Homo sapiens: one gene and its partner. The protein of the gene in region 1 interacts with the protein of each later gene in a pairwise test. Each region holds a gene or a part of one and is shown in the gene's direction. Other genes may lie near its edges. The genes, in order: HAT1 and ZSCAN4.

The links.
Region 2: the proteins of HAT1 (region 1) and ZSCAN4 interact in binary tests that used the Homo sapiens proteins (3 or more experiments, as listed by UniProt).

Annotation. Positions count from the first base shown.
Region 1 is NC_000002.12:171,955,366-171,971,237, forward strand, and holds part of HAT1 (histone acetyltransferase type B catalytic subunit), read left to right. Parts: intron 1-9,972; coding exon 9,973-10,152; intron 10,153-10,421; coding exon 10,422-10,543; intron 10,544-11,043; coding exon 11,044-11,148; intron 11,149-11,477; coding exon 11,478-11,584; intron 11,585-15,872. UniProt on the Homo sapiens protein: Histone acetyltransferase that plays a role in different biological processes including cell cycle progression, glucose metabolism, histone production or DNA damage repair. Coordinates histone production and acetylation via H4 promoter binding.
Region 2 is NC_000019.10:57,660,969-57,677,313, forward strand, and holds the start of ZSCAN4 (zinc finger and SCAN domain-containing protein 4), read left to right. Parts: upstream 1-7,966; 5' UTR 7,967-8,235; intron 8,236-9,276; 5' UTR 9,277-9,599; intron 9,600-15,072; 5' UTR 15,073-15,177; coding exon 15,178-15,573; intron 15,574-16,345. UniProt on the Homo sapiens protein: Embryonic stem (ES) cell-specific transcription factor required to regulate ES cell pluripotency. Binds telomeres and plays a key role in genomic stability in ES cells by regulating telomere elongation.

The DNA of each region.
Region 1 (15,872 bases):
ATTTAGAAGGCCAAGGCGGGAGGATCACCTGAGGTCAGGAGTTTGAGACTAGCCTGGCCAACATGGTGAAACCCATCTCTACTAAAAATACAAAAATTAGCCGGGCGTGGTGGCAGGCACATGTAATCCCAGCAACTTGGGGGGCTGAGGCAGGAGAATCACTTGAACCTGGGAGGCAGAGGTTGCAGTGAGCCAAGATCGCGCCATTCATTGCACTCCAGCCGGGGCAACAAAAGCAAAACTCCATCTCAAAAATAAATAAATAAATAAATAAAGGAAATAATGGACTGTTGGTTAGGGCTCAGAATGAAGCTAGGAGTGTAGGAGAGAACACCTGTATCATCTTAGAGAATATATATATAGTCATAAACTTAGTTTTGGTAGAAACACGAACATGAGCTGGATGCGTTGGCTCATGCCTATAATCCCACAGCACTTTGGGAGGCCAGGGCAGGTGGATCACGAGGTCAGGAGTTTGAGTCCAGCCTGGCCAACATAGTGAAACCCCGTCTCTACTAAAAATACAAAAATTAGCCCGGCATGGTGGCGCATGCCTGTAATCCCAGCTACTCGGGAGGCTGAGGCAGGAGAATCACCGGAACCCGGTAGGCGGAGGTTGCGGTGAGCCGATATCGCGCCACTGCACTCCAGCCTGGGCAACAGAGCGAGACTCTGTCTCAAAAAAAAAGTGCCTCTGCTACTGAGGAGAATGAGGCAGGAGGATCATTTGAGGCCAGCAGGTTGAGGCTACAGTAAGGTAAGTATGATCATGCCACTGCACTCCAGCCTGGGTGACAGTGAGACCCTGTCTTTAAAAAAAAAAAAAAAAAAAAAAAGGCCAGGCTTAGTGGCTCACATTTGTAATCCTAGCACTTTGGGAGGCCAAGGTAGGTAGATCACTTGGGCTCAGGAGTTCAAGCCAGCCTGGGCAGTATGGCGAAAACCCATCTCTACACGCACACACGCACGCATGCACACACACACACGCTGACACACACACGCTGGGTGTGGTGGTGTGTGCCTGTAGTTCCAGCTACTCTGGAGCCTGAGGTGGGAGACTGGCTTAAGCACGGGAGGTGAAGGTTGCAGTGAGCCAAGATGGTGCCACTGCACTCCAGCCTGAGTGACAGAGCCAGACCTTGTCTCCAAAAAACAAACAAACAAACAAAAGAACTGCCTCTGGTTGGTGAGGGCTTAGAATAAAATGAGGAACATGTATTTGGCAACTGGAGAAAAGGATATCCTTGTTCTATAGTGGCAGAAAGCCTAGCTGAGTTATGTCCTGCAGTTCTGTGGAAAGGAGAACTTACTGTAAGCAATGAACTTGGATGTTTAGCTGAGGAGGTTTTCATGGAAAGTATTGGAGGTGTGGCCTGATTTCTGGCTGCTTATAGTAAAGTGATGAAAGAGATAAATTGAGGGAAGAACTGTTAAACAAAAAGGATACAGGACTTGATGATTTGGGAAATTCTTAACCTATCCAGATTGTAGAAGACACTAGTTAGGATATTCATTGTCAGGAAGGTGGAAAGTGTGTTCTGGAGAGAAAGCCGTGAGTGTGACAGGATAACCTTTTGCTAGTGCTGAAGGGATTAGGCACGTGACTCATGGATCTCCTCAGTTGTCTCAGCAAAAAGCTAGGAATGTAGATCTGGGGAACATTTGTGGAGGACCCTCTTGTCTAATGGTATGAACCCTCATGACGTACACAGGCGACTCAAGGGTTTTGAGAATTAAAACTTTATAGTGCAGCTTGGATTGACAGGACAAAATGAAGGAAGGCTGTATGAACTCTCCAAATTTCACAGGCAGGAAACAGGCTAATAAAACTGCTCAGCTGCCAACATGTGCTACCTTTAAAGAAAGTGGAAGAATGACTCTGAGGGCAAAGCTTTGGGTCCAGAGGGTGGAGCTGCAGGCCACAGTTATTCTTAGGCCTTGAAACCTAATGGAGTTTGCCATGCTGAATTTTGAAATTGCTTGGTGGCAGTGGCTCCTTTCTTCCTTCCATTTCCTTTTCTGGAATGAGAGATTCTATAACTGTTGTCCTATGCCTGTCCTACCATTGTCTTTTGGAAGTGATACTGTGTTTTCTAATTTCACAGGTTCATAGATGGAGAGGAATTTTGCCCTAGGATGTATCATACCCACAGTCTTACCTATGATGAGAGGTGTGACTTTTGAACTGACTATATCTAGATGAGATTTTGGGCTTGAGTTGATATGGTAATGGTTGAGACTTTTAGGAATGTTTGGATAGAATGAATGTATTTTGCATGTGGGATGGACATGAATCTTTGAGGGCCTTAAGAAAATTATATTTTAGGCTTGTTCTGTTTCCGAGCATTCCTCATTTAAGGGCATTGAAACTTCACCATTGATTTTTTTAAAGATTAAATCCCATTTTGTCACTAAATCATATTTATAAAATTGAAAGTTAATTCTTATAGCAAAATCTCTTTTCTTTGCACTTATTAATCCAGCAAGTTTTAGTAAATTATATCTGATATACTGTTGGTAATACTGTGCTAGACACAAGTATGGAAAATGAAATATATTACTTCATACTGTATGTCATAACTTTCCTCTGCAGAAGTAGCAGTTCCTAAAGAATTAACAATTAAACCAACTTTTTCAGGGCTTTAAACTGATTTTAACTGTTGACTTTACCTCTTTTGCCACCCCTATGCCCCATCTATATTTTTGGTTAAAACCTCCTCTCATTACTGGAACTGACTTACTTGGCCCTTTTTTATTATTTAAATTTTGAGGGATTTGTTATATTTAAAGGTTTTGCCCAAAGTCATACAACTAGTAAATAATCAGTATTGTACTAGGAGATGATTATTTAGTGTTATTATGCATAATATATAATAATATCCTGATTAAAAGATGTTAGGAATATTTATGACCTGTTCTAAGAGGATCCAGGCTCTTGGGCTTACTGCTTTTTCTCTCTCTCTCCCGTTATTTTTTTTTTTAATTTTAAGTTCTGGGATACATGTGCAGAACTTGCACGTTTGTTACATAGGTATCTTTCCCCTTTTGACCATGTGTTTTTCCCCCTCATTAAAAAAAATATTTTTTTAATTTTTAATTTTTTGTAGAGACGGGGTCTTGCTATAGTGCCCAGACTGGCCTCAAACTCCTGGCCTCAAGCAATCTTCCCACCTTGGCCTTCCAAAATGCTGGGATTACAGGCACAAGCCACCGTACCCAGCCTTCTCCTGTGTTTTATGCCATGTGCTCCCAGTTTACTGCTATCATTGTAAGGAGCTTCACACTAGCAAACCCCTTATGGTTAAAAATACCATATTGGTAAGCTTGATGGAATCTGATTACTTCATACTGTATGTCATAACTTTCTTTTGCAGAAGTAGCAGTTCCTAAAACATTAACAATGCCACCAACTTTTTCAGGACTTTAAACTGACATTAACTTCTGACTTTACCTCTTTTGCCAACCCTATGCCCCATCTATAAAACTAATTGTGCGTAGCATGAAAAAGATCTGAAATAGTTTCATATAATATGAATTGTGCATAGCATGAAAAAGATCTGAAGTAGTTTCATATTCATTATTCAACTTTAGTATTAGAAATATTTTGAGTTCTATTTGGTTTTTTTGTGTGTTTTTCCCCACTTCCCAGCCATGTTTGAGATGACTGAGCTTGCCAGATAAATAATATGTAACTACATTTAATATTTGTTTTATTTTATATAGTTTGTTTCCCAGGATAACTTTTGAAATTGTGCAGATACAAAAGTGATTCTGAGTAATACTGTAGTGGTTTGATGTTTGAAAAGATGTAATCTTAGATAAACTAGCATTTAACACATTTATTAAAATAGAGTTTTTTCATAATCAAATATGTAGATTGCTAAATTCTCCAGACCCAAGCCCAGCTAGATATTCTTATTAAAAATGCAGGTGATGTTTTTCCTTGTGTGTAAACCCACTGTTGGAGGGTTTTTGTTTTTTACAGTTGCAGCTGATAGCACTGAATTGATTTCTTCCAAAGGAACTATTGATTTAGTTATAGATAAATCTTTTAAATATTTCATGCAGTGAAAATAGCTGTGTATTTGCATTGACATCTAATTGTTCCATTCTTGAAAATTAGGTTTTTCCATTTAGAAATACTGTGTTAGGAATAAGGAATCAATCTTTTATAATGTCTCTTTGTAGAGTTACTTATTTGCTTTGTGGTCAAAGATCATTTATATTGCGTATTCAAACAAAGACTTTTTTCCCCTTATTAAAAACGATTGGGTAGGGGATATGTGGGTCATGGGCTTGCTTCTTCTATCTCAGTTTGCAGTGAGTGTTCATTCCATAGTGCCTTCTGTGTTGTTGATGCCAGCGATACAGTGGCAGACAAAGTCATGGAGCTTACATTCTAGCCAAGAGGAACAGTCAGTAAACAAAATAGTAAATACACAAATTAAATTCAGGCAGTATTATGAAGATACATTTTGCTCATTTCTGAATGATAAAGGAGGAACCAGCCATGTTATAATCTGAGGGTAAAGCTTACTAAGATACAAAGGCTCTAAAAATACAGCATTTTTGGCATTTTTGTAGTCCAGAAAGATTACCAGGGTTAAATCATTGTGGTGATGGAGAGAGGGGTAGGAGATGGTTGAAGGGGATGCAAAGCTAGATCATCATATAGGATCTTGTGTTCTGTGATAGGTGTTTGCAAGAAATAAGAGTAGTTGGCATTCTTTAGAGGCATTCTTAAGTAGGTGGAGGTCATAAACAATGTGATTTATATTTTTAAAATATGATTCTGGCTGCTGTGCAGAGAACACACTGTATAGGGCAAAAGTGAAAGAAGAGACCGGAACATTGCAGTGTTAGAGGTGACACTGGACTTAGTTGTCAGAGTAAGGAACATTTTGGAGGTCTGCTGTTGAATTAGATGTGACAGATGAAGAAAAAAAACGAGAACCCCATTGCCCAAGTTCAATTATGGTACTGTTAACTGGGAAAACTATAGAAGAAATAGGTTTAAGTGGAAACAATAAAAAAATTTTATTTTGGATGTTAGGTTTGAGTCTAATATATTAGGGCTTTGCAGATCATACTGCATAGATGGTCAGCAGCCATAACATCTGCTTAGAAGTTATTTCTTATTAGGATTATGTCATTACATTAATTTTTAATCATCCATTCTTTTACTTTTCCAAGCTGAATGCTCTAGTTGCACCTAAAATTCTTCAGTCACAATTAAGATGCCTATAAAATCTCTACTAGCCACCATCTTTAAAGGAAACATAATTCTGAATTTTACAATACAATAAACTTGATTATTCAGACACTGATGATTTTTTCATCTGGTTGTCCTTGACCTTTGCTTTTATTAACACCTCCTGCTCTGTGCTTGTAATGCCAGCTACTCTGTAGGCTGACTCAGGAGGATCATTTGAGGCCAGGAATTTGAGACCAGCCTTGGTAACATAATAAGACCCTGCCTATTAAAAAAAAAAAATGCTGAACGTGGTGGCTCAAACCTGTAATCCCAGCGCTTTGGGAGGCCGAGGTGGACAGGTCACTTGAGGTCAGGAGTTTGAGACTAGCCTGGCCAACATGGTGAAACCTCATCTCTACCAAAAGTGCAAAAATTAGCCAGGTGTTGTGGTGCGTGCTTGTGGTCCTAGCTACTCAGGAGGGTGAGGCAGGAGAATCACTTGAACTCGGGAAGTGGAGGTTGCAGGAAGCCGAGTTCGCGCCACTGTACTCCAGCTTGGGTGACAGAGCAAGACTCTGTCTCAAAAAACGAAAACAAAAGCTAGGCATGATGGCATGCTCCTGTAGTCCCAGCTACTTGGAAGGCTGAGACAGAAGGATCTCTTGAGCCCAGGAGGTCAAGGCTGCAGTAAGCTATGGTTACACTACTACATTCCAGCCTAGGTGACAGAGCAAGACTCTTGTCTTAAAAACAAAAACCTCCTGCCTTTTCTTGGGGGTAATTTCATTGCCTTTTAGTGAAGTAGTGGGTAACTAAGATTGTTGTCTTGCTAATTGCTAGCATTTCTGGGAAAAGTTTGGTACAGGAAGTTGAAATAGATGGATAAAGTTTGTATTAACTGTGAATTTCAGTTATTTTATCCTAGTGTCCCACTAATTGGATTGAATTTGAGAGGATATGAGAGCAGATTTTAAAAATTTTATGGAGTGTTTAGCCTCTTTCTAGGAAAATCCTACATACTTCCAGAAATTTCGAAAAAATCTTTGGTAGACTAGTAAAATTTCAAATTGTGATGGTGTTCTTGATAAGTAATACTTTTTATGAAATATCATAAAGAGCTTTAAAAGTATATATTGACAAGTTTATCTTGTTTAGTTCAAGTAGCAAAATACTAATGCAGTGTAAATAAACATAATATGACCTTTGTTTTTCCATTAGTGAAAAAGTTCACACTTTTAATTTCTCAACAATACATTCTGTAGTTAAAGCTTAAATATTATCAGAGAACATGAGATTGAGAACATTAAGTAGATACAGAATTTCTTTTGCTTGTTTTTTTTTTTTTTAGCATATTTTAGGTAGTCTTAGAATTATAGTTAAGTCTATGTACCACTTTAGCCAAGTAAAGAACAACATGTTACCACCTACTTAACGTGCCTTTAATTTCAATCTCAAAAATAACTAGACAAATTTAGACAAATGGTGCTGCTTAAGATAAGATGTTAGAGAGGTTATTGGGTTTTCAAATGTGTATAAATACAAATATAAACATTAAAAAAATAGATTACTAATTATCAGGCATATCGCTTTATTCAATAATGAGGAAATGCAAAAATTGCTCCATATGAACATGTTCATGTGTAATAAAGTACAGAACACTGGAACTTGAAATGACCATAGTTAAATAGTATACAATCTAAAAATATTTCATAATGACCCACCTACCAGAATATCTAACTAGAATACTTTTGCACTTTCCTTTTTAAAAATAAATTACCAAGCGTTAGGAAACCATTTGTAAGAGATGTCTTTGTTAATTAAATATATCAGGTTGTATTCTGGTTTCTTTTTTTGAGACGGAGTCTCACCCTGTCACCCAGGCTGGAGTGCAGTGGCGCAGTCTTGGCTCACTGCAACCTCCGCCTCCCAAGTTCAAGTGATTCTCCTGCCTCAGCCTCCCAAGTAGCTGGGATTACAGGTGCACACCACCACGCCCAGCTACTTTTGTATTTTTATTAGAGACAGGGTTTCACCATGTTGGCCAGGCTGGTCTCAAACTCCTGACTTCAGGTGATGTGCGTATTTTGGCCTCCCAAAGTGCTGGGATTATAGGTGTGAGCCACCATGCCCAGCCTGGTGTCTTTTTAAAAATTTTTTTGAAATTCTAGTTCCCTGGTGTGTCTAGTCAGCTGAATTTCTTACCCTTTCTATATTTCTGTATAATTTTAGTTGAAGTTTAGAATAATGCTCTGGAATACAGGGAATTTTTCAGTGATCTTCAGAAATAGATTCTAAACTTTTAGCCACAAACATTGGAATTAAAAAGTTTCTGTTCATTTTTAACTCTATTCAATTAACAATGATTAAATGAGGTCTTGCTCTTGTGCTGATTTTATTATCTGATCAGTAATCCAATCTGAAAGACGAATATTTTAAATTAAACTAAATTATATATTTGAGAAAAGAGTACAGATCTCTAAGACATGGTAGTCAGGATTTTTTTTTTTCTTAAAGCAGAATCCATTTAATAGAGAAATGCAGACATTTTCCCTTTAGTGAAGCGAAGTTGTAAATTCTAGGTTGAAGAACTATTTGGTTTTAAGTTGTATATTTTATGTAAGTATATCAGATACATATTTATATACATAACTATTTATAAATATATATTTATATAATTATATAAAGATTCCTTGCTTTAAAATTGCCCTTTGCCCCGTAAAAATTCTTAATGTGTAAACTTACACAAAGCAAACTATTTTATTTGAAGATATTTATTACAGGAAATAGACATCCTTTGAAGGCTGAAAGCCCTTTTTCAACTTTGTTGGGCTCAAACCTTCTGGTTGCTCTGCCCGCCACCAAAAGTGCTACTTGAAACTTAGAGTTTCTGAGAAGTCTTTGAAGTAGATTTGATACAAGATATGTAAAGTGATTTGCAATGCCTTCTTGAGAAGACAGGACATAAGGAAAGTTTTTAAAAGTTAAAATTATACATGCTATGAAAGTCTTAAAGTGATTTTTAAACTGATAGATTATAAATCCCTTTTTAAAAGTAGTTTTTCTTGGCTTTTTAAAAACCTTAACTAACATACTATACTGTTTTACTCATCACTACTTTGGATTTTAATTGCTACACAACACATCTATTACAGCTATCCCTCATTATGACAGTTTCCTTGATAGCTGTTGAAATTGTACTGATACTATAAAATATGCTTACGATGGCCTCTTCATGTTAGCAATTTCAAGGAAAAATATTTATCAAATAGTACTTTAAAAATAAGCAAAAACTGTCCTATGAAATGCAGTTTATTTGATCTAGAGTGTGAATGAGTTGCAAGGACTGATGTACATATTAGAAATAAACTGTTGGGCAAAATGCTGAAGAGCTATATTTTCAATAATAGGTCTTTTTTATACCTATAAACAAATTATATATAAATGTTGGTGGTACCAGAGCATTGAAAATAAAACTTGTTTGTGATAAACGTCATCACTGGTTCTCTATCCTGAAATGTAACTGAATCATAATAAAGTGCTATTCATCTGCAGGTGCATTGCTTCTACTTAGTTAAAAGATGGTTGAAAGGATAGGAATTAGTAGCATGTTGTATTAGCCTTTTGTAGTGTATTTTGTCCTAAGCATCTTAATTTCCCTGTTTTGAATGCTAAGTAGCAAGGGTCTTGGTTTAGAACTAATACCCATCATGCATGTAAACGGTATGAAAGAGCTGCTTAGTAAGTTAACACAAAGTGTTCTTGTGTCAGTCCTTGTGGAAATAGATACAATACAAACATTACAGCTGAACTCACGGCAAACTCCATTAAGTAAAAACCTGGCCTCATTGTTCAGGAAAAAGTTTGAATAGAATACAAGCTCATTTTGTTGAATGTAATGTCAGGCTTTTAGGGACTGTATTGAGGGATAAGGTTTTGTTAAGTTGAGACCAATTCATTAAGTTTTATTGCCTGGTGAGAAGCAGCAATACTTTATTGTAAGACTTCATCAAATATTCATGGTTAAAGAGAAGTAGTAAATGTATTCAATCAAGTGGTCTTTTGGGATTTTGAAAAGGATTATGAAGTCTGCTCAGCTGATAACATTGATAGAGGTTGTTTAACAAGGGTAATTTTAATCTCCGAGTTTAGTTTTGTTGTCCAGTCTTGTCTCTTTTTTACTGTCACAAATCCAGGTCTGTAAGAATTGTGTCACATTCTAAGGATAAAAGAATGATATATCCATTCATATAATTTATGTTATTTCCTAAATATGTATATTTTTAAGTTATCATCTTAGTTTGAGTTTGGCATATGAGGGAATTGTGACCCATCTAGTTGTGAGATTGCTATTCATTTGGTCAGACTCTAGTCTCATCTCACCACTGCTGGTGATCTTTTCATGTCTTGGATAATATGATTTCTTTGACACATATAAAATAATAAGCAACCTTTTGCCTTGGCCAGTTCAGACTGTCATGAAGGGGTATAGTCAGCTGTTTCTGCATAATGGAAATGTCCATAGCATTGCCCTTATTATTGTACTTGGTATCAGGTCACCTGCCTTCTCTTATTTACTTTTATATTATGCTCATCTCAGTTTTGTGTGATGCAGTTTGTGCACAGGAAGCTCATCCTTTTCCAATTCGCTGTGTGTTTACTTCTTTAGTTTTCAACCAAAGTTTTGTAATTTGTGTTGGTTTTGTCAGTTTTAAAGAAATAAACCATATTCAACTTAAAGTCGAATTTGTTATTAATTTTTTATATCCTTTATTCTTTAGGCAGATGATGTTGAGGGCAAAATTAGACAAATCATTCCACCTGGATTTTGCACAAACACGAATGATTTCCTTTCTTTACTGGAAAAGGAAGTTGATTTCAAGCCATTCGGAACCTTACTTCATACCTACTCAGTTCTCAGTCCAACAGGAGGAGAAAACTTTACCTTTCAGATATATAAGGTAAAGATAAATCTAAATATTTATTGAGTAAAGTTCTATTTGCCTGAAACCTGTATGTAGTTTTGTTGTCAGTGATTTATTCTAACTGCAGTAAACAAGTTTTAATCAGCATTATAAACCAAGATCTATTTTGTGTGTATGTCTGTATCTATGTTCACATCTTAATCTGAGACTTCTAAACATTTTCCCACAGGATAATTTTGTGTTCTGCGGACTTTCACTTACCTTTGTGATGAGTTTCACCTGACTTTTCCTGGCTTTTTCCCTAGGCTGACATGACATGTAGAGGCTTTCGAGAATATCATGAAAGGCTTCAGACCTTTTTGATGTGGTTTATTGAAACTGCTAGCTTTATTGACGTGGATGATGAAAGATGGCACTACTTTCTAGTGTAAGTACAGTTCTAAAGCAACAGTAGACCTTATTACCTCCACAAAGCCAGCATTTTAATTGTGGCAGCCCAATTATTGGGACAGTATAATGATATTTTTCCCAGGAAAGAAAAACTATTGTTTATGAGGCTTGAGTTTTCCTTCATTATGCTTTGGGAGACCTTGAGAATAGAGCTGAATTAAATGCTGTTGTCCGTTAGGGCCCTGAATGTAGGCTTAAACAGTAAAATGAGCTTTGCCTGTGTTTTCTTTTACTTGCCACCTATTCATCTTTATAATAGGCAAGTGCACTGAAGTGATGTAAAGAGGTCTGATTTATCCAAGTTGCTGCACACCAATTAAGTGAATTGTACATTCAGAACATAGCAGGTGTACCCATTGGGCCCTCACAGAGTAGCTTGCTGACACTGAAAATTCAGTCAGAGAATGGAAAAGAAAATGGACACTGCATGGGAGCGCGACTGTAATTGACCTGCTTGGCTTTCTGTTTTATCTGCAGATTTGAGAAGTATAATAAGGATGGAGCTACGCTCTTTGCGACCGTAGGCTACATGACAGTCTATAATTACTATGTGTACCCAGACAAAACCCGGCCACGTGTAAGGTAATTGGCAGTATAACACGTGCCTTGTCTTTTATTTCAGAAGAAGGAACTGCTGAAGTTTCCAATACTTGTTATAATAGTGTTGATTTGTTTAAAAAAAAAATCACTATTATTCATGGGCTATGTACTGATTTATTTCATTGTTCCCTTTGAAACAGTGTAGAAGATTAAACTAATTTTGAGTATCTTGATAATTTTTGGGTATCTCAAAGGTGGATTGAAAAAAAGATCACACAAACTTTAAAGTGTTTGTAATACTATAGTGATCTGCAGGTTTTAAACTGGTCATGTTATGATATTTTAATTTTAAAATAATTTCTTTACTGTAGTCAGATGCTGATTTTGACTCCATTTCAAGGTCAAGGCCATGGTGCTCAACTTCTTGAAACAGTTCATAGATACTACACTGAATTTCCTACAGTTCTTGATATTACAGGTATGTAAAATTTGATTTGTTACTGAAAGAGCCTTTCTAAAAATGTCTTCTTACTGATTGATTTTATTTTTGTCAGAAATAACTATTTTAAACAGCAACATTTTCCTAGGGTGTTTAAGCCATCTAAAGATGGCTTAAGTTTATGTTTTAGAGCATAAGCCTTTGTGGGGATTGGATTACATCCCTAACTGTGAAGTGCATAATGGAACAAATTGAAGATAATGAGCTGAATATATATGGGGAAGTCTTGGTCAGGCGTAAATACGTTGAAAGTATGGTATAACTTATTTGTTCACTTTATTTGGCAAACAGTTGCATTATTTAGAGGCAGCCTGCACTTTAATTTACATGTAGGGGCAGAATATTATAAACTTTACTGAGAAAAAAAGTCAAGGTAAATACTTCTTGAATAGAATACACATTTCCTAAAGTGTGTGTTTTGTATTCCTAAAATGCATGCCTTCACAACAGTAGTAGATAAGGTGAAATGTAGGCCTATTTGTTTTGGAAATGTCTTTCAGTATGGATTAGCCATAGAAGTAGTAGTATGAATAGAATGCTTAGGAGAAGGAAAGACGACTTACTCGACTTACTCGACTTGACTCTTCAAAAGGAGAAGGCATTATTAGATGGAGTTTCAGATAATATGTTAAAGTGTGATCCACCAAAAAACAAAGTGGCCCAAGGAATATTTATGTTATTTTCTAACTTTCAAATTTGTTGTTCATAAAATTGCTGATGAAACTGAAAGTTACCTTTTTCTTTTATTGAAAAATACTTTACCAGATAGTTACATGCAAATTGGTATTAAAATTTATTAATCTTACAAGTTTGAATTTGGATACATCTTTGTTACAAACTATACTATTTAACATGCACTAAAACATTAACATGTTAAAAAATGCTATTTGGGAATTTTGTTTAAAGACACCACCTCCCACCCACCCACCCCCACCAAAAAAAAAATGGTTGTAAGACTGGCAACCACATAAATAGGCTAGTAAGCAGATTGTTTCATCCTTCTTTATATAGACTAGTAATCCAAGGTAAATAAAATTGAAGTTGCTTCAGAACAGTGAATTGATCTGTAGAATAATAAACTGGAGGGAAAGCACGTTGTCTTTAAAAGGGAGTTTCACATTTATAGAGGTGAATTATCTTTTCATCTGACTTTCCTGCTACTGTTAAATGGGTTGGAAACTCAGGAGATAAAGTAGTAGTTACTAAACTTCGTTTATAACAAAAGTTATAAATTGTTTAAGCGACAACTTCACTAGCTTAGTGACTTATAAAATTGTAGAAACATAATACAGACTATGTCACTTCTTTTAGTTGAGCAGAAAATTGTTTAGCTTCTATTAACTTATAGAGCTTAGACTTGCTGCTACATGAAGGGACATTTTTGGTGATTTTAATGTGGAGTTCACATAAGTAGTCTTTGTCTACTCTAGTGGGTAATGTGCCAGCAGGGGTTGTTTCTCTGAAGCCTCTTAACCACTTTCTTCTGTCTACTCCAACCAATAAAGTCCTTGATACTTAGCACCAATTAGCAGATAAAGAATTTTATTTCTTAAATCTCAGTGAAGAGTCATCAATAATGGTAGCCTTTATTCATTGGTGTTATTCATTAGAAACTGAAGTCTCTAAAAAGAAAAGACTAAACATGCTAAAGGACTTCTGAATTTGACAACTGGGTATTGGCCTTTATTTTCAGCATTAACATTTCTCAGCATTTAAAAATACTAAAAATGCCTTATCAGCTGTTCTCATTAAGATATTTATTTCTCCTAGATTTCCATACCCAGTCCTTAAAAAACAAAACTGCAGATTTTTCTACTCTTCTGTCATTTAGTTGCCTGTTTCTCCATTATTGTGTGTGCTTTTTTAGCTTTGTGGTTCTTTTGCAGGCTCTGGATCTCCATTTGCAATCCAGAATATTCTTTATATTGAGATGGCCTTTTGCTTACTTGACAGATAGCCAGATCTAATAATAATTGAAACTTCCTGTAGATGGCCTAAGTTATATCTTACTTCCAATGGATGGGTGTTTGTGGTATAATTGCCACCCATTTTCATTTTTTTGCACTCAATTTTAAGGTAAAATACTGGCAGACAATTCCTTGTATACCATCTGCCTTTTGAAGATACTATTCTCTTAAGATGTACAGCATTTGAATACATCTCAGTTGTATAACTTTATAAATAGAATCAATGATCTTGTTTCCTCTGGACTTCTGAAAGGAGTTGCATTTGGCAATAGAAATCGATTCTGGGCTGGAATACATATCAGTATTATTATCTATCAGTAGTACATTAAGAGCTAATTATATTTGTCCTTTAAATGTACTTTATTGTTCTGGGATGTGCCATATAGCTTTTTAGAATATTATGTGAATTGTTTATAACTTAGGTGATTGTGCTGTTATCTCATTTCCCTTCTTTAGAATATGATTTTTTATCACTAATATGTATGTTAATATGAGAAGCTTTAAAAAAACGATTGCTAGATGATGTATTACATTTAGAAAAAACTCAGTTTTTGATCCTGCATATCATTGTAGATTTAAATTCAAGAAAATTTTATCTTTAAATATGTTGCTTATCTTTGTAGCATAGAAACAAAGGAATTGAAGGATGTCATACATTATTGGGTGTCGTTTTAAGTTCATTTCAGACTGACACTTTCAAAGGGCTTAAAGATTGAGTGGTGACTTGGTTCCTTATATTAAGCTGCAAACAAAGTATTATCAGTCATAATGGCTTATTTAAAACTGGAAATTTTTTTGCATGTTTTTTGACTTATGTGAAAATTTCAGGTAAAAATGTGGCCTGAGTAGTTTTTCTCAACTGTAACTCATTTTCCTATGATACCTATTTCCTAAACTTTTCTGAGGGTATAGAAGTTACTTAAAATTTCACTCAGCTGGTTACAGTGGCTCATGCCTGTAATCCCAGAAGTTTGGGAGGCTGAGCTGGAGGGTTGCTTGAGCTCAGGGGTTCAAGACCAGCCTGGGCAACATAGGGAGATTCCCGTCTCTATAAAAAAATTTTTTTTAATTAGCTGGATATGGTGTCACACACCTATGGTCCCAGCCAGCTACTTGGGGGACTGAGATGAGAGGATCGTTAGAGCCCAGGAGGTCAAGGCTGCAGTGAGCTGTGATTGCGCTATTGCACTCCAGCTAGGGGGACAGAGCGAGACCCTGTCTTAAAAAATACACACACACTTTGGGAGGTCGAGGCAGGTGGATCACGAGGTCAAGAGATCGAGACCATCCTGGCTAGCATGGTGAAACCCTGTCTCTACTAAAAATACAAAAAATTAGCCAGGCGTGGTGGCATGCACTTGTAGTCCCAGCTACTCGGGAGGCTGAGGCAGGAGAATCACTTGAACCTGTGAGCCGAGATCCTGCCACTGCACCCCACCCTGGTGACAGAGTGAGACTCTGTCTCAAAAAAACACACAGATTCACACACACATACACACACACAGCCATACACACATACACTAAATGTTAGTTTAAATCAGTATTAGCAATGCAGTTTCTTTTTTTTTTTTTTTTTTTTTTTTTTTTTTTTTTTTTTTTTGAGACGGAGTCTCCCTCTGTCCCCCAGGCTGGAGTGCAGTGGTGCGATCTTGGTTCACTGCAACCTCCACCTCCCGGGTTCAAGCAATTCTCCTGCCTCAGCCTCCCAAGTAGCTGGGACTACAGGTGCGTGCCACCATGCCCGGCTAATTTTTGTATTTTTAGTAGAGACGGGGTTTCACCGTATTGGCCAGGCTGGTCTCGAACTCCTAACCTTGTGACCCTCCGGCCTCGGCCTCCCCAAGTGCTGGGATTACAGGCGTGAGCCACCACCCCTGGCTGCAATGCAGTTGTTTTTCTCAACCAATTTAGAAAGAAATAGACTTGGAAAAACTGACATTGGATAAGCTTGTACCTCATCTATTAGTACTTGAAAAAATGTGGCCGGGTGCCATGGCTCACGCCTGTAATCCCAGCACTTTGGGAGGCCGAGGCGGGCAGATCACAAGGTCAGAAGATCGAGACCGTCTTGGCTAACATGGTGAAACCCTGTCTCTACTAAAAATAAAAAAATTAGCCAGGCGTGATGGTGGGCGCCCTGTAGTCCCAGCTACTTGGGACGCTGAGGCAGGAGAATGGCGTAAACCCAGAGGTGGAGCTTGAGTGAGCCAAGATCGCGCCACTGTACTCCAGCCCGGGTGACAGAGCGAGACTCCGTCTCACAAACAAACAAACAAAAAAATGTTTTACAAGAGATACTT
Region 2 (16,345 bases), on another chromosome or scaffold:
ATTGATAACCACAGCAACAGTGTTTGGACTTTAGAGAAACTTTATTCATGCCCACACTATGTCTACTGACCTACATTTTGTTACTTAAATTCATTTTAAGATTTCTCTTCCAAAAGTTTTCCAGTTATTCTCCTCTTTTGATTCATTGATCCCCTATATTTTTATTTTACCAGTAATTTCATAACTTCTCTTAATATTAAAATATTTTAATGAATATTTGGAATAAACGTATGTGTCTATGGTGAATACTCACTGGGACACACTATACCCCTCCTTCTTCCACAACCTCAACCTAAGGAAGGAACACTGTCTACAAGTGGTGAGGATCCTTCCAGATAGATTTCCATTAATTTACATAAATTTTGCAAGATCTCCCTTAACTCACCTCTGCTTGACTTACTGCTGAGTAAATTCTTTCTCCATATTCCCTTCATGTAACGTGCTAATCAGTGACCATAAATCACACATGATTGTTACTGGTAGAATCAATGCTTTCAACTCCAACACGTCTGTCTCCACAGGTTGATGTATATATTTATCAACAGGGAGTTTTCTCCTCCCAAAAGTAATGCCATTTGCTCTATTTATTCAATGGCATAAGTGGTTTACTGTAATAAAAACTACTAAACTATAATCACAAAAAGGAAAACTTTTTATTTTTATAAAGCCTAAATAAAATGTGCCAGAAACAAAAATTAGAGATTCTTTAAAAATGCTATTGAGGTAAAAGTGAGTGATAAAAGTAGACCTGTATAAATACAAGTCTGTGAATATTCTGTACTCAGAATTTTGACATCTTTAAGTGTTTTAGCTTACTTTAAAGAACTACCATGCTGGGCGCGGTGGCTCACGCCTGTAACCCCAGCACTTTGGGAGGCTGAGGTGGGCAGAAAATCTGAGGTCAGGAGTTCAAGACCAGCCTGGCCAACATGATAAAACCCGTCTCTACTAAAAATAAAAAAATTAGCTGGATGTGGTGGTGCACGCCTGTAGTCCCAGCTACTCAGGAGGCTGAGGCAGGGGAATCACTTGAACCTGGAAGGCAGAGGCTGCAGTGAGCTGAGATTGCACCACTACACTCCAGCCTGGCCAACAGAGCGAGACTCTGTCTCAAAAAAAAAAAAAGGAAAAGAAAAAAAGAACTGCCAATTGTAAATTTGTAAATCATGTTTAATTATAGTTTATGATAGAAAATAAAAGAAACATAAAATTTCTTACAGAAGAATTTAACCCATAACAAAGTTTGAGCAAAGTAATACAAGCTACAATTAAAATAAGTCATTTCAATTTCATTTGAATGTGAGCCAAACATTTTATGTTTTTATTTTTTTCTCAGGATTATATCTTTTTATATGTTGTATTTTTTTCTTTTATCTGGCTATTAACAATAGTAAAGTGATTGATAACTTTCTCTTTTACATTCTATGTATTTAAATATCTTATTTAGATTATTTTAATTTGCAATTATTTTTCATTAATATTTCATTTTATTAAAAATTGCCTTTTTTCAGTGTTTACATATTAATGGCTTACTTATCCAAGATTGTAAAAATATACAAATATTTTTACCGCTGAGAGATTTGGTTTTTTGTTTGTCTGTTTTTGTTTTTTGAGAGGGAGTCTCACTCTATTGCCCAGACTGGAGTGCAGTGGCACAATGTCAGCTCACTGCAGCCTCCTCCTCCTGGTTCAAGTGATTCTCCTGCCTCAGCCTCCCATGAAACTGGGACTACAGGCTTGAGCCACCACGCCCAGCTAATTTTCGTATTTTTAATAGAGATGGGTTTCACCATGTTGGCCAGGCTGGTCTTGAACTACTGACCTCAAGTGATCCACCTGCCTTGGCCTCCCAAAGTGTTGAGATTACAGGCGTGAGTCACTACACCCAGCCTAAGACTATTCTTTACTTTGGGTTTTTTGTTGTTGTTGTTGTTTAACAGGCTGTCATTTGTCACCCAGGCTGGAGTAGAGTGGCACGATCTCAGCTCACTGCAGCCTCAACCTCCTGGGTTCAAGAGATCCTCCTGCCTCAGCCCCTTTTCTGCCCCTCACCCCCCACCCCCAATAGCTGGAACTACGGACGTACCACCACTTCCAGCTAATTTTTGTACTTTTTGTAGAGACTGGATTTCATCATGTTTCCCAGGCTGTCTCCAACTCCTGAAATCAAGTGATCCGCCCGCCTCGGCCTCCCACAGTGCTGGGATTACAGGTGTGAGCCACCGCACCCGGGATTGTTATTCTTCACTTTGAATCCCACATGTTATTTAAAGCTAAGACCTGAGGCAAAAAAAAATCACTTCTATATTTCAACTAATACTATTTTATTACTAGGTAATAAGTCCCAATATTTACATTTATGTACACATACACACACATTTCCTTTCTATACCATTAAGATAATGGTAGACCTTTATGTCAGGAAAATGCTATAGGCTGGGGGCGAGTGGCTCACGCCTGTAATCCCAGCACTTTGGGAGGCCGAGGCGGGAGGATCACTTGAGCCTAGGAGTTCGAGGCCAGTCTGCACAACGTGGTAAAACCATGTCTCTAAAAAAAAAAAAAAAAAAAAAAAAAAATTAGCTGGGCGTGGTATCATGAGCCTGTAATCCCAGCTACTTTCAGCTACTCGGGAGGCTGAGGTGGGAGGATTTCTTGAGCCTGGGAGGCAAAGGTTGCAGTGAGCCCAGATCCCACCACTGTACTGCAGCCTGGGTGACAAGAGTGACAACCTGTCTCAAAAAAAAAAAAAAAAAAAAGCTATTGGTAATTGAATTTATCTTTATTGAACAAATCCTCTTCATTGCATGCTTTAAATTTTGATTTGTTTAAATTTTATTGAATTGTAATAAAACGATTTTGAAATTACTAGAGAAGCCCAGGCGCTGTGGCTCACGCCTGTAATCCCACCACTGTGGGAGGCCAAGGCAGGCGGATCACCTGATGTCAAGAGTTCGAGACCAGCCTGACCAACATGGTGAAACCCCGTCTCTACTAAAAACACCAAAAAACAATTAGCCGGGCTAGCTGAAGGCACCTGTAGTCCCAGCTACTCAGGAGGCTGAGGCAGGAGAATGGCTTGAACCCGGGAGGCGGAGGTTGCAGTAAGCAGAGATCGTGCCATTGCAGTACAGCCTGGGCGACAGAGAGAGTCTCCGTCAAAAAAGAAAAAGAAGAGAAAAGAAAAAGAGAAAGGAAGGAAGGGAGGAAGGGAGGAAGGGAGGACGAGAGGAAGGGAGGAAGGGAGGGAGGGAAAAGAAATTCCTGGGCAGATGAAAGTGAGGGGTCGGGGGTCGGGGTCGGGCGCGGCGATGCCGCAGCTGCGGGGCTCGGTGGACTCGGCGAGCAAGAGCCCCAGGACGCTGCTGGCGGCGGGCGAGGAGCTGGGGCGCGGCGCGGGGCGGCTCTAGGCGCTGTGGCCGCTCAGCGTCTGGGACCCAGCGCCGCCCAGGTCAGGGAATCCTTGGTGTTCCCGCCCCGCAGCACCCGGGGCGGGGGAGGAGTCGGCGCGGTCGTGCGGCCGTGGAGGACAGCGAGACCCGGGGCTGCGGCTGCAGGCCGAGGGGCCCCTGGGACAGTGAGAAGCAGCGGCGGGAGCTAGTCACGGGGCAGGGAGCGCTCAGCGGTAAAGACGGCTTCATCTGACTCCAGGGCTGGCAGGCGGCCCGGATGGCATGCCGTCTCCTGCGGAGAATTCCAATTTCCCCCTAAATCGCTCAACAAGCGAGAAGGTTTTGGGATTCGAATTCAGTGGGGCAAGCGAAGTCGCCTTTCCTTCTTAAACAGATGGAATCCCTGGTCCACAAACGTACCCTGTGCCAATTTCATACAACACGCTATGGCTGCTGCGGATGAGAACACAGCAACTCTGCCAGATGAAAAGCTTCAAGGCTCTGTGAATCCAAGGTCAAAAACGCCAAAAAGGAAAGTCCTTTTCCAGGACAAGCGCACGCGTGCTGGTCGTGGAGCGCCCCCTCCTCATGGAGACCGGCCTGGGATTGATGTCCTTCATTAACAATGAGGCTAAACTGGGCTATTCCATGACTGACCAGGGGCAAAATAGGCTTTTAGCCAGCGGCATTCTGGGAGCTCTCCCCACTAAGAAGGCCAAGGGATGTGGGGTCTGAGAGCCTGGCAGTCCTCATGCAAAGCCGCTGCTGGCTGGAAGCATAGGGGTCTTTTACCTTTTGGGATCTCTGCACGATTAGAATAGTAAAGTGGATAGTAATTGCATATTGCACTCTGCTAATGCAAGCTACAGACAAAAGCAAAAAGAATCTAGCTGCCACTGTGCTGCTAGGATTCCATTTTCTGTAACTTCAGTTCTGATACTTTTCCTGGAGTGTATCTACTTGGCTTCTGGCGGTTCTTCCCATCCCAGCCACTCCAGCAGGCTAAATCCCGCAGCACACCCCTTACCATTTGTGTAGGCTGCTAAATACAGGGAGGCACCTGGTATCTCCAGTGTCTGCAGACACAAATATGTTTACACTTGGTGTCAAATTTTGTATTTTAAATTTTAATACTTTTTTTTTTAAAGCTCATACAAAAGCAGCCAGCAGACAAGTTCACTGACATCAGTCTGCACCTGTCAGCTCCTGGGTGAATCATTGTTCTTTTGTAAATGTGTGTTTGACCTAAAGTCACCCTTTTTCTAAAATTAATCCAAGGCCGGGCGCGGTGGCTCACTCCTGTAATCCCAACACTTTGGGAGGCTGAGGCGGGTGGATCACCAGATCAGGAGTTCGAGACCAGCCTGACCAAAATGGAGAAACCCCATCTCTACTAAAAATACAAAATAAGCTGGGCAGCCCACGTCAGTAATCCCAGCTACTCCGGAGGCTGAGGCAGGAGAATTGCTTGAACCCGGGAGGTGGAGGTTGTGGTAAACCGAGATCGTGCCACTGCACTCCAGCCTGGGCAACAAGAGTGAAACTCCGTCTCAATAATAATACTGATACTTAAAATATCTTTGCGAGGCCCAAGTAGGTTTACAGAAAATCATCTTAGGACAATTTTTTAATTTGAGAAAGTCACTTTGGCAGTTCTTTGCACACAATTTTGACAAGTGTATGTATTATAAGTTGTATTGTATTCATATTTAAAAGGAAATTGGGTAGTTTGCCTTTTGAAGAATGCGCTTTTTAAAAAGGAACCATATCAGATCCTTATGAAGCAGCCGATGCCTGCCATGGTTCCTACAGGTCCTGTACAGACTCGGGGCTTTGTCCAAGTCTCCACTAAACATGCTAAGCTTCGATGCGCCCTGGAGAATTTCCACGGGGTGATCCACGCACCTCCATGAGATCCTGCAGCTTGCTTGTATGACTGGAAGCATTGGATAAGCTTCGCGTGCTGGCTCTCCAGTTCTTTCCTTCTCTTTACGACTGTTGTAGCTTTTAGCTAATGGAGTGGTGCGGTCCAAGTGCGGCCACCTACGGGAGGTGCAGGGCTGCCTCGGAAGCTGGCAGGGGACCCCAGTCTTTGCGTTCATAAAGACATTTAGAACCGGATGAATGTTGTTCCTTTTTTGAAGTTGTTATTAAAGTAGGTGCAACAACCAAAAATCAATAAATAATAAATAAATTGACTAAATATTTTTTCTCAAAAAAAAAAAAAAAAGAAAAGAAAGTCACCAGGTGTGGTGGCTCACGCCTGTAATCCCAGCACCTGGGGAGGCTGAGGTGGGCGGATCACCTGAGATCAGGAGTTTGAGACTATCCTGGCCAACATGGTGAAACCCCGTCTCTACTAAAATACAAAAATTAGCCGGGTGTGGTGGCGCATGCCTTTAATCACAGCTACTCTGGGTGCGGAAGTTGCAGTGAGCCAAGATCGTGCCACTGCACTCCAGCCTGGGCGACAGAGCAAGACTTTGTCTCGAAAAAAATAGAAAGTTAACAGTTTTGTTTATTTTCCTACCAGGTTTTTATTATTATTATTATTATTCTAATTGAAATCACTGTTTCCTACATACTGAGGCGGATTGGCTTTGTCTTCTTGGAAACAAAGGTTATTTTCCTCACTCACACTGGAGCGGGGATACTCACCAGACACAAGTTGAGATGATGCTGGATGTAAACGGGTCATCTATTTTTACCAAAGGCAGCACTACCTGCCTTCCCAATTGATCAGAAAAGCATTTGATAGTTGTCTTTGTAATATCCTTATTTGATTAAATTACTATGTGGATTTCACATTTATTTTTATTGTTTTGTGCCTGTTTATTCTATGCCTAAGTTGGGGTATCACCAGGTCATTTCCTCCACCATCTGTGTTTCCCCAAGGATAAATCCTCCTGCTCATGCCCTTCACTCCTCCATTAGCCCATTCCCTAGAAAGCTGCTGGTTTTACACAGTGGCTGTGTGTCTTTGCCTTCTTAATGTAGCATTCAGAGTCCCACTCTGGAGCCAGGTATCAAATCCTAGCCCAGCCACTTACAGGCTATGTAGCACTGGCCAAGGTACTGAACTTCTCTGTGCCTCTGTTATTTTGATGTTAAAATGGAGTTATTTAGGATCTACTTTACAGGACTGTTGTGATGGAAATGGGTTAACATACAGAAAGCACTGAGAACAGAGTCAAATATGCCCTGACTGCTTAAAGGTTAGTTATTATGATCCCTGATGCTATTACTACTCTTACTGATATCATCGTGCCTCAGGTCTAACTGCTCCCAGAGTTACACACCAGCATGTCCAACAGCTGGCTGTATATCTGAACTCAAAAATCCAATAACCTCCTCCAAACAGAAATTGCCAGCTTTTCCCCAAACCTTTTCCTTACAGCTCCTTACAGAGCTCAAGGAACTCCTTGAGACTGCAGAAGCAGACAGGAAATGCTTTCAACCCACCACAAATTAACAACTGGCCTCCAGTGGTACTCACATTGTCTACATTTTTCATTGTTTTTTTTTTGTTTGTTTTTTGTTTGTTTGTTTGTTTGTTTTTGAGACAGAGTCTCACTCTGTCGCCCAGGCTGGAGAGCAGTGGTGCGATCTTGGCTCACTGCAACCTCGGCCTCCCAGGTTCAAGTGATTCTCCTGCCTCAGGCTCCCGAGTACTTGGGATTACAGGTGCCTGCCACCATGCCTGGCTAATTTTTGTATTTTTTTAGTAGAGACGAGGTTTCATCATGTTGGCCAGGCTGGTCTCAAACTCCTGACCTCAGGTGATCCACCCGCCTCGGCCTCCCAAAGTGCTGGGATTACAGGCATGAGCCACTGCGCCCAGCCCATTTTTCATTGTTGTAGCAGAGAAGTATCCCTGCTTCCATCAAGAGCCAATTTTCCTGTCACAGTTGGTTTAATGACATAGTTGGTGACAGGACCTAAACCACCAGTGGAAAATTGGCTCTTGATGGGAGCAGGGATACTTCTCTGTATGGAGTATATGTGGATGAAACTCCTTGGAGAAATGGACTAGTACACAGTCTTATAATGTGAGGATTCAGAACATAATTCCTAATGTGGGGAAGTCAAGCAGACATTTCATCAGTGGAGTACCAGGAGATTCAAACTCTGTACCCAACAGTGATAGGGGGACAATCTAAGCCCCAAGAGGCTGCATGCCTGATGGAGCAGATGAAACACATGGCTGTAATTAGCTCCCACCCCTTCGATACGTTCTCAACTCCACCAAAGCCTCAGCCTGTATGAGGGTGGAAAGTGGGGAGGGAGAGTGCAGGGAAGAAGGCACAGCTTCCACCACACTAGGTGACCAGGCGCTTCTCACCATTTTAACTCCTCCATCTCTCTCAAGCCTCATGTTAAGTCTATCAAACATCATATGCTTTCTCAATATAAAATATGCACCAATTTCTCCCTTTCCACTGATATAATCCTAGTCTCAACCCCTGTCATCTTTTTGATGGATTAGGAATGCCTTCTCTGGGTCCCGGGCCCCCTCTGTTTCACCAGCCTGGAATTGGCACAGGAGTCACAGCATTAGCCTTGCCCTCTGCCACCCTTGTAATTCATAAATCTCTGAAAACTTAAAAGTTTGAGCAAAAGTTTGTCATGTTTCTATGAGTAATTTATAATAAAACTTGATCAGAATTTGTGAGACTAACGTTTGTCTTTATATTTTCCTTTTTTTTTTTTTTTTTTTTGAGACACAGTCTCGCTCTGTCGTCCAGGCTGGAGTGCCGTGGCGTAATCTCGGCTCACTGCAACCTCTGCCTCCTGGATTCAAACAATTCTTCTGCCTCAGCCTCCTGAGTAGCTGGGATTACAGGTGCATGCTACCACGCCCAGATAATTTTTGTATTTTTAATAGAAACCGGGTTTAACCATGTTGGTCAGGCTGGTCTCAAACTCCTGACCTCATGATCCACCTGCCTCGGCCTCCCAAAGTGCTGGGATTACAGGCGCGAGCCACCACACCCAGCCTGTCTTTATATTTTCATTTAATGTGGACCTTGTTACATTTTACCGCAGATTTTGTATTTTTGTGTGTGTTTGTTTGTTTGTTGGTTTTTGAGACAGTCTACCTCTGTCGCCCAGGCTGCAGTGCAGTGGCACAATTTCAGCTCACTGCAACCTCCGCCTCTGTGGTTCAAACAATTCTTCTGCTCAGCCTCCTGAATAGCTGGGACTACAGGCACGCGCCACTACGCCTGGCTAATTTTTGCATTTTTAGTAGAGATGGGGTTTCACCATATTGGCCAGGCTGGTCTCGAACTCTTGACCTCGTGATCCGCCCACCTCGGCCTCCAAAAGTGCTGGGATTACAGGCATGGTTTTTTTTTTGTTCGTTTTGTTTTGTTTTTTTTTTAGAGACTTGGTCTCCTTCCATTTCCCAGGCCAGAGTTCAGTAGGGCGGTCATAATCCACTGTAGCCATGAACTCCCTGGCTCAAACAAGCTACACAGACATGCCACCATGCCTGGCTAACATTTTTAACATTATTTTTGGTAGAGACAGGGTCTTGCTTTGTTGCTCAGGCTAGGGATTCACAGAGTCTTGCTCTGTCTCCCAGGCTGGAATGCAGTGGCGCAATCTTGGCTCACTCTAGCCTCTGCCTCCCAGGTTCAAGTAATTCTCCTGCCTCAGCCTCCCAAGTAGCTGGGATTACAGGTGCCCACCACCATGCCCGGCTAATTTTTGTATTTTTAGTAGAGAAAGGGTTTCACCATGTTGGCCAGGCTGGTCTTGAACTCCTGATCTCAGGTGATCTGCCTGCCTCAGCCTCCCAAAGTGCTGAGATTACAGGTGTGAGCCACTGCACCTAGCCTGCAGAAATATTAATGTGTTTGTTTATGACCTGTTGACCCAGGACCAGTGATGGTATAGAACACTGTATTAGAGACATGGAGCTGGGGCTGGATGAAGATTCCATCAGTAATTCAATCAACAGACAAGTGTTATCCAATCACGTCTTTAAATCAATCACTGACATGGAGCTGGGGCTGGATGAAGATTCCATCAGTAATTCAATCAACAGACAAGTGTTATCCAATCACGTCTTTAAATCAATCACTGATCCCAGCCCCTATAAAAGGGAGCAGCCTTAGGAGGCACATCAGATAAACCCAGTGTGGAAAGCTAGTCACACATCAGCTCAGTGTTCGGCCCGGGATTACCCAGTCAACCAAGGAGGTAAGCTTCCATAATGGAAGGAAAATTTTGTGCCTTTGAGTGTGTATACATTTTGTGTCTTTGAGTGTGTATACATAATTTTGTGTCTTTGAGTGTGTATACATGTGTATGTAGGCATAGCTATTTCAGGAAAATTCCTAACTACAGAGATATGGGGGTCTCCCAGGTGTAGGGAATGGTCTTTTGTTACAACAGCTCTGACCCAAAAGGGCTTGATGTTGTGAACTCTGTATAAAGGCCTGGTGTGACTGAAGATTTTTCTTCAAAAAGTCTATCGTATGACTTTATGTTCTAGTAATTCTTTTTTTTTTTTCGAGACAAGATCTCTATCACCCAGGCTAAAGTTTAGTAGCCCCAATCACAGCTCACTGCAGCTTCAGCCTCCCCAGGCTCAAGTGATCCTTCCACCTTAGCTTCCTGAGCAGCTGGGACCACAGGCGCACACCACCACACCAGGTTAATTTTTCTATTTTTTGTAGAGGCAGGATTTTGCCATGTTGCCCAGTGTGGTCTCAAACTCCTGGCCTCCAGTGATTTGCCCACTTTCAGCCTCCAAAAGTGCTGGGATTACAGATGTGAGCCACTGTGCCCAGCTTAGTAATTCCTTTGTATTGCATTATATGAAATATGTAGCTGGGTGTCATTAGAGATCATAAAGCCCAGGATACAGACCCAGACCTGACGGGTAGCATGCCTGCGTCACAGTTTGTAATTGCCAGACTCCAGATTAGAGCTCCGGTAGCCTTGTTTTGAATTCCCAGGTTCTGGGAAATAAGCCATAATACTTTGCAGTCTTGTCTATGTGGGACGGAGTGCATGTCTCCAAGTGTGAACATGTGGTCTGTGTGTCATAGGGGAGAAAGGGTGGGTAATCCAAAAAGAGAACTTGGAGGGAAGTGAAATGAAGGGGAAGCCATGGGTTCCACAGGAAAAAAAAAAAAAAAGAGAGAGAGAGAGACCAATGTCCCTGGATATAGAGAACCAGCCACAACACCTAAGATGGAGCTTGAGAAGTGTAGAGCTGGCCCAGGAAAGCCTCGTAGGACAAGGACTCAGTGCTTTTCCCTGAGGGCAAAGGGGAGCCATCCAGAGAGTAGAGTGGGGTATGATGTGAGCAGATTAGCATTTTATAAACGTTGACTGGAAGCATTATGACAACTGGGTTAGGGAAAGGCAAGAATGTGTTCCATTGTCTCCTAGGAGATTTTACCAGGATCACCTCTGCCTTATTAACTGATGCGATCAGGGTAGCAGATCTGGTCTAATCAGACCAGATGAGATTAACACAAAGCAGGAAATAACATTAACTAACAGAAATCAGTTAGGTTTTTGTGTGTCCACGTATTACTCCTACCATTTTCTGATTTTATGGCATGAAATTTGCTTTTTTCAAAATTGCACAAATCTTTGAAATGTTAACCATATATAAAATTGGAGAAAAAACACAAAAATAGCAATGATATATTAACAGAAAAGGGATTAAATTCTTTATCCATTCAGGATTTCAAAGGGTGTGTCTCTAGTTGTCCAGATAATCTGATTTGGGATTAGAAATCAATTTCAAGCAATGCAAACTCACTTTTACTTCTGAATCCTAAACATCAGTAGGAAAGGACAGGGAGTAAAAACAGATAAACATAAAATAGTAGCTTTGGTTAAAGCAGTAAAGTTCTAAGGAATGGTAACTGTTAATGGGAAAAAAATTCAAGCAGAAAAGGTGCTAAGAATGTTTCCTAAGGAATGTATCCTTTCACAACACAGTGGGTGTAGCTGGTAGTGGCCTTGCAGATGTCTGTGCCTAATAAGTTTTCAGCCAGAGAAAGGTGTCATTTGTATGGATTCTGGCTTGTCTTTTCTATTTCATTCACTTCTTTCTCTTTTTCTTGTTTTCCCTAGCTTTATTGAGGTATAATTGACAAAGATTGTATATATTTAAGGTGTACAATGTGACACTTCTCTCTCTATATATATGTATACTTTGCAAAATGATTACCACGATCAAGCTAGTTAACATATTCATCACCTCACATAGTTATCTTTTTTTTTTTTTTTTGAGACAGAATCTTGCTCTGTCACCTAAGCTGGAGTACAGTGGCGTAATCTCAGTTCACTACAACCCCCACCTCTCAGGTTCAAGTGATTCTTGTGCCTCAGCCTCTCAAGTAGCTGGGATTACCGGTGCATGCCACCACACCCAACTCATTTTTGAATTTTTAATAGAGGTGGGGTTTCACCATGTTGCCAGGCTGGTCTTGAACTCCTGGCCTCAAGCGATATGCCCACCTCTGCCTCCCAAAGCACTGGGATTACAGGGGTGAGCCAATTATCTTTTTTATATCATGAGAACACTGAAAATCTAGCAAATTTCAAGCATACAATATATATTAGCTATAGCCACCATGCCGTACATCAGATCTCCAGAGCATATTCATTTTTTTTCCCTAGCCTGAGAAGGACATGGTGACATTTAATTAATTAATTTATTTATTTATTTATTTTGAGATGGAGTTTCACTCTGTCGCCCAGGCTGGAGTGCAGTGGCACGATCTCGGCTCACTGCAACCTCCATCTCCTGGGTTCAAGCGATTCTCCTGCCTCAGCCTACCGAGTAGCTGGAATTACAGGTGTGCACCACCACAGCCAGCTAATTTTTGTATTTTTAGTAGAGAAAGGGTTTCACCACGTCTCATCTCAAGTGATACGCCTGTCTCGGCCTCCCAAAGTGCTGGGATTACAGGCGCGAGTCACCGTGCCCGGCCACATATTTATTTTATAAATGAAAGTTTGCCATAGGCATAGTAGCTCACGCCTGTAATCCCAGAAAGGCTAGAGTGAGGAGCAGTCACTTGAGTCCAGGAGTTCAAGACAACCTGGACAAAATAGCGAGACCAAGTCTCGAAAAGAAAATTTTTAAAAAATTAGCTGAGTGTGGTGCGTGCCTGTAGTCCCAGCTACTCAAGACGCTAAGGCAGGAGGATCGCTTGAACCCAGGAGGCTGAGGCTGCAGTGAGCTGTCATGGCACCACTGCACTCTAGCCTGTCTGACAGACGGAGACCCTGTCTCAAAATAAATCAAGTTTGCACCATTTGATCAACATCTTCCCATATGCCCCACCCCATGCCCCTGGCAACCACCCTTCTACTCTCAGTTTCTAATACTTTATTTTCTGATGATGATGATGATTATTATTATTATTATTATTATTGAGACAGAGTTTCTGTGTTGCCTAAGCTGAAGTGCAGTGGCCCAATCTCAACTCACTGCAACCTCTGCTTCCCAAGTTCAACCCATTCTCCTTGCTCAGCCTCCCGAGTAGCTGCGATTACAGGCATGCACCACCACATCTGGCTAATTTTTATATTTTTAGTAGAGACGGGGTTTCGCCATGTTGGCAAGGCTGGTCTTGAACTCCTGGTTTCAAGTGATCTGCCCGCCTCGGCCTCCCAAAGTGTTGGGATTACAGGTGTGAGCCACAGTGAAAAGAGTTTTTTTGTTTTAATTTCAACTGCTTGTGATAACACAATATTACAATATTCAGTTCATTTTGGTTTATTGGCATTGTAATAGACATCTCCCTAAATTCACCTAGGCTAATATTTGGTGAATATTTTATTTTATTTTAGATTCAGGGAGTACATGTGCATGTTTGTTACAAAAGTATTCTGCATATTGGTGGAAATTGGACTTCTAGTGTACCTATTACTTAAATAGTGAACATTGTACCCAATGGGTAATTTTTCAATACCCATTTCCCTCCCAACTCCCCCGCTGGAGTCCCCAGCATCTGTTATTTCCATCCTTATGTCCATGTGTACCCACTGTTTAGCTTCTACTTATAAGTGAGAACATGCGGTATTTGGTTTTCTGTTTCTGAGTTAGTTCACTTAAGATAATGGCCTCCAGCTCCAACTATGTTGCTGCAAAGGACTAATTTCATTCTTTTTTATGGCTGCATAATATTCCATGGTATGTATTTCACATTTTCTTTATCCAGTCAACCACTGGTAGACTCTTAGGTTGGTTCCATGACTTTGCTCCTGTGACTAGTGCTGCAATCAAAATATGAGTGCAGGTGTCTTTTTTTATATAATGATTTCTTTCCTTTTGAGTAGATACTGAGCTGGATCAAATGATGGTTCTATTTTTAGTTCTCTGAGAAATCTCCATACTGTTTTCCATAGAGGTTAACTGATTTGCATCCCCACCAAATTTATTGAATACTCTTTGTAAACAAAATCAAGACTCTATAAATATGTTTGAAATATTTTCTTTCCTTATTTCACTGGTTAGGGAGCAATCCAATGTTTCATAGAGATGATAGCTCAAGCAGAAAACTTTTAACAATAAATTTTGTTGTAACTACTTTATAAAATATTTTTCACATCAAGTTTTTTTTTTTTTTTTTTTTAAGAGTCTCACTCTGTCACCCAGGCAGGAGCTCAGTGGCATGATCCTGGCTCATTGCCACGCCCACTTCCCGGGTTCAAGGGATTCTCCTGCCTCCACCACTGAAGTAGCTGGGTTTACAGGCACGTGCCACCATACCCAGCTAAGTTTTGTGTGTGCGTGTGGCTTTTTTTTTTTTTTTTTTTTTTTTGAGACGGAGTCTTGCTCTGTCAGCCAGGCTGGAGTGCAGTGGCGCAATCTTGACTCACTGCAATCTCCACCTCCCGGGCTCAAGCAATTCTCCCATCTCAGCCTCCTGAGTAGCTAGGACTACAGGTGCATGCCATCATGCCTGGCTGATTTTTGTATTTTTAGTAGAGATGGGGTTTCACCATATTGGTCAGGCTGGTCTCGAAATCCTGACCTCAGGTGATCCACCTGCCTCAGCCTCCCAAAGTGTTGGGATTACAGGCATGAGCAACCACACCCGGCAAGTTTTGTATTTTTAGTAGAGATGGTGCCTCACCATGTTGGCCAGGCTAGTCTCGAACTCCTGACCTCAAGTGATCCGCCCTCCTCGGCCTCCCACAGTTCTGGGATTATAGGAGTGAGCCACTGTGCCCAGCCAAGGATATTTCCTAATAGTTCTAGTTTATTAAGTGCCTTTTTCAGGAATAAACATTGGCATTTAAACATTTTAAATGCATTCATTGAGATGATTTTATTATGTTCTTGTATCCATATCCCGTTAACGAAGTAAATTGCATTGATTTTTGAATTTTAACCCAAACTTCCTGCATTTTGGAAATGAACACCATTTGCGATGTATATGTGAGTAGATTTTATTTTCAAATATTTTGTTTTGGATAATTTTAATGTATTTGTAAAATTTTGTTATCAGGAAGTGCTGACCTCAGTAACTAAAGTGGGTAGTGCTTCCTCTTATATGCTCTGGGAGAGTTTATGTTAAGTTATAATTATTTCTTTGAATTCATCCATAGAGCCATGTAGGCCTAACTTTTTGGTTGATTTGTCTTTAATTATGCCAGTGGTGCAATTAATTACTCATCTCTTTTCTATTTCTAGCTTGCAGTTTTAAAGAATCCACCAACTGTTGAAACAAATCCCTAGAGACACAAGGCAAGAGACTGAATCATCAAAGTAAAGTCTCTCTGAGAATTATTGCTAAGAATGGCTTTAGATCTAAGAACCATATTTCAGTGTGAACCATCCGAGAATAATCTTGGATCAGAAAATTCAGCGTTTCAACAAAGCCAAGGACCTGCTGTTCAGAGAGAAGAAGGGATTTCTGAGTTCTCAAGAATGGTGCTCAATTCATTTCAAGACAGCAATAATTCATATGCAAGGCAGGAATTGCAAAGACTTTATAGGATCTTTCACTCATGGCTGCAACCAGAAAAGCACAGCAAGGATGAAATTATTTCTCTATTAGTCCTGGAGCAGTTTATGATTGGTGGCCACTGCAATGACAAAGCCAGTGTGAAAGAGAAATGGAAATCAAGTGGCAAAAACTTGGAGAGATTCATAGAAGACCTGACTGATGACAGCATAAATCCACCTGCCTTAGTGAGTACAGGGTTCTAACTTCTGGGATGAGAGACAAAGGAAAGTAAGGAATAAATCACAGTCAGTTAGAGTTGTCTGGAAGTTAGAGAAGCTATTGGAGGTCCAGTTATTAGTCAGCTCACACTCTCCCACCATTCTCACAAAGAATAATCTTCAATGTCCTAAGTTCTCAAGAAAAAAAGCAAAAAGGTATATATCTGTTTATTCTGTAGGACATATAGGAGCCAAACATATTGATGTTTGATTAACTTAATTTTAGTCTGCATAATGGCAGACTCTGAGAAATTGACTTTTTGGCATGATATCAGCTCACTGCAACCTATGCCTCCCAGGCACAAGTCATTCTCGTGGCTCAGCCTCCAGAGTAGCTGGGATTACAGGCGTGCTCCACCAAGGCCGGCTAATTTTTGTATTTTTAATAGAGACAGCGTTCCACCATGTTGGCCAGGCGGTCTCGAACTCCTGGCCTCAAGTGATCCGCCTGCCTTGGCCTCCCAAAGTGCTAGGATTACAGGTGTGAGACCAGCCTGAAATTGACATTTAAATGAAGACATCAAGGTTGAGGAAGAAATGTCTTGACAAGAGCTTGTTCTTCTGTCAGGGAACTCTAATCAAGAAAGACATTCTAAAGAAGCAATTACGGTAGATCCTTATTCTCAGAGCCCATATTTGCAAAATTGCTAAAATTTATTTGTAAGCTTAAAATAAATACCTGAGGCATCTTCTCCGTCATTTTCAGATATGTGCAGGTGGTAAAATATTTGATTTACCT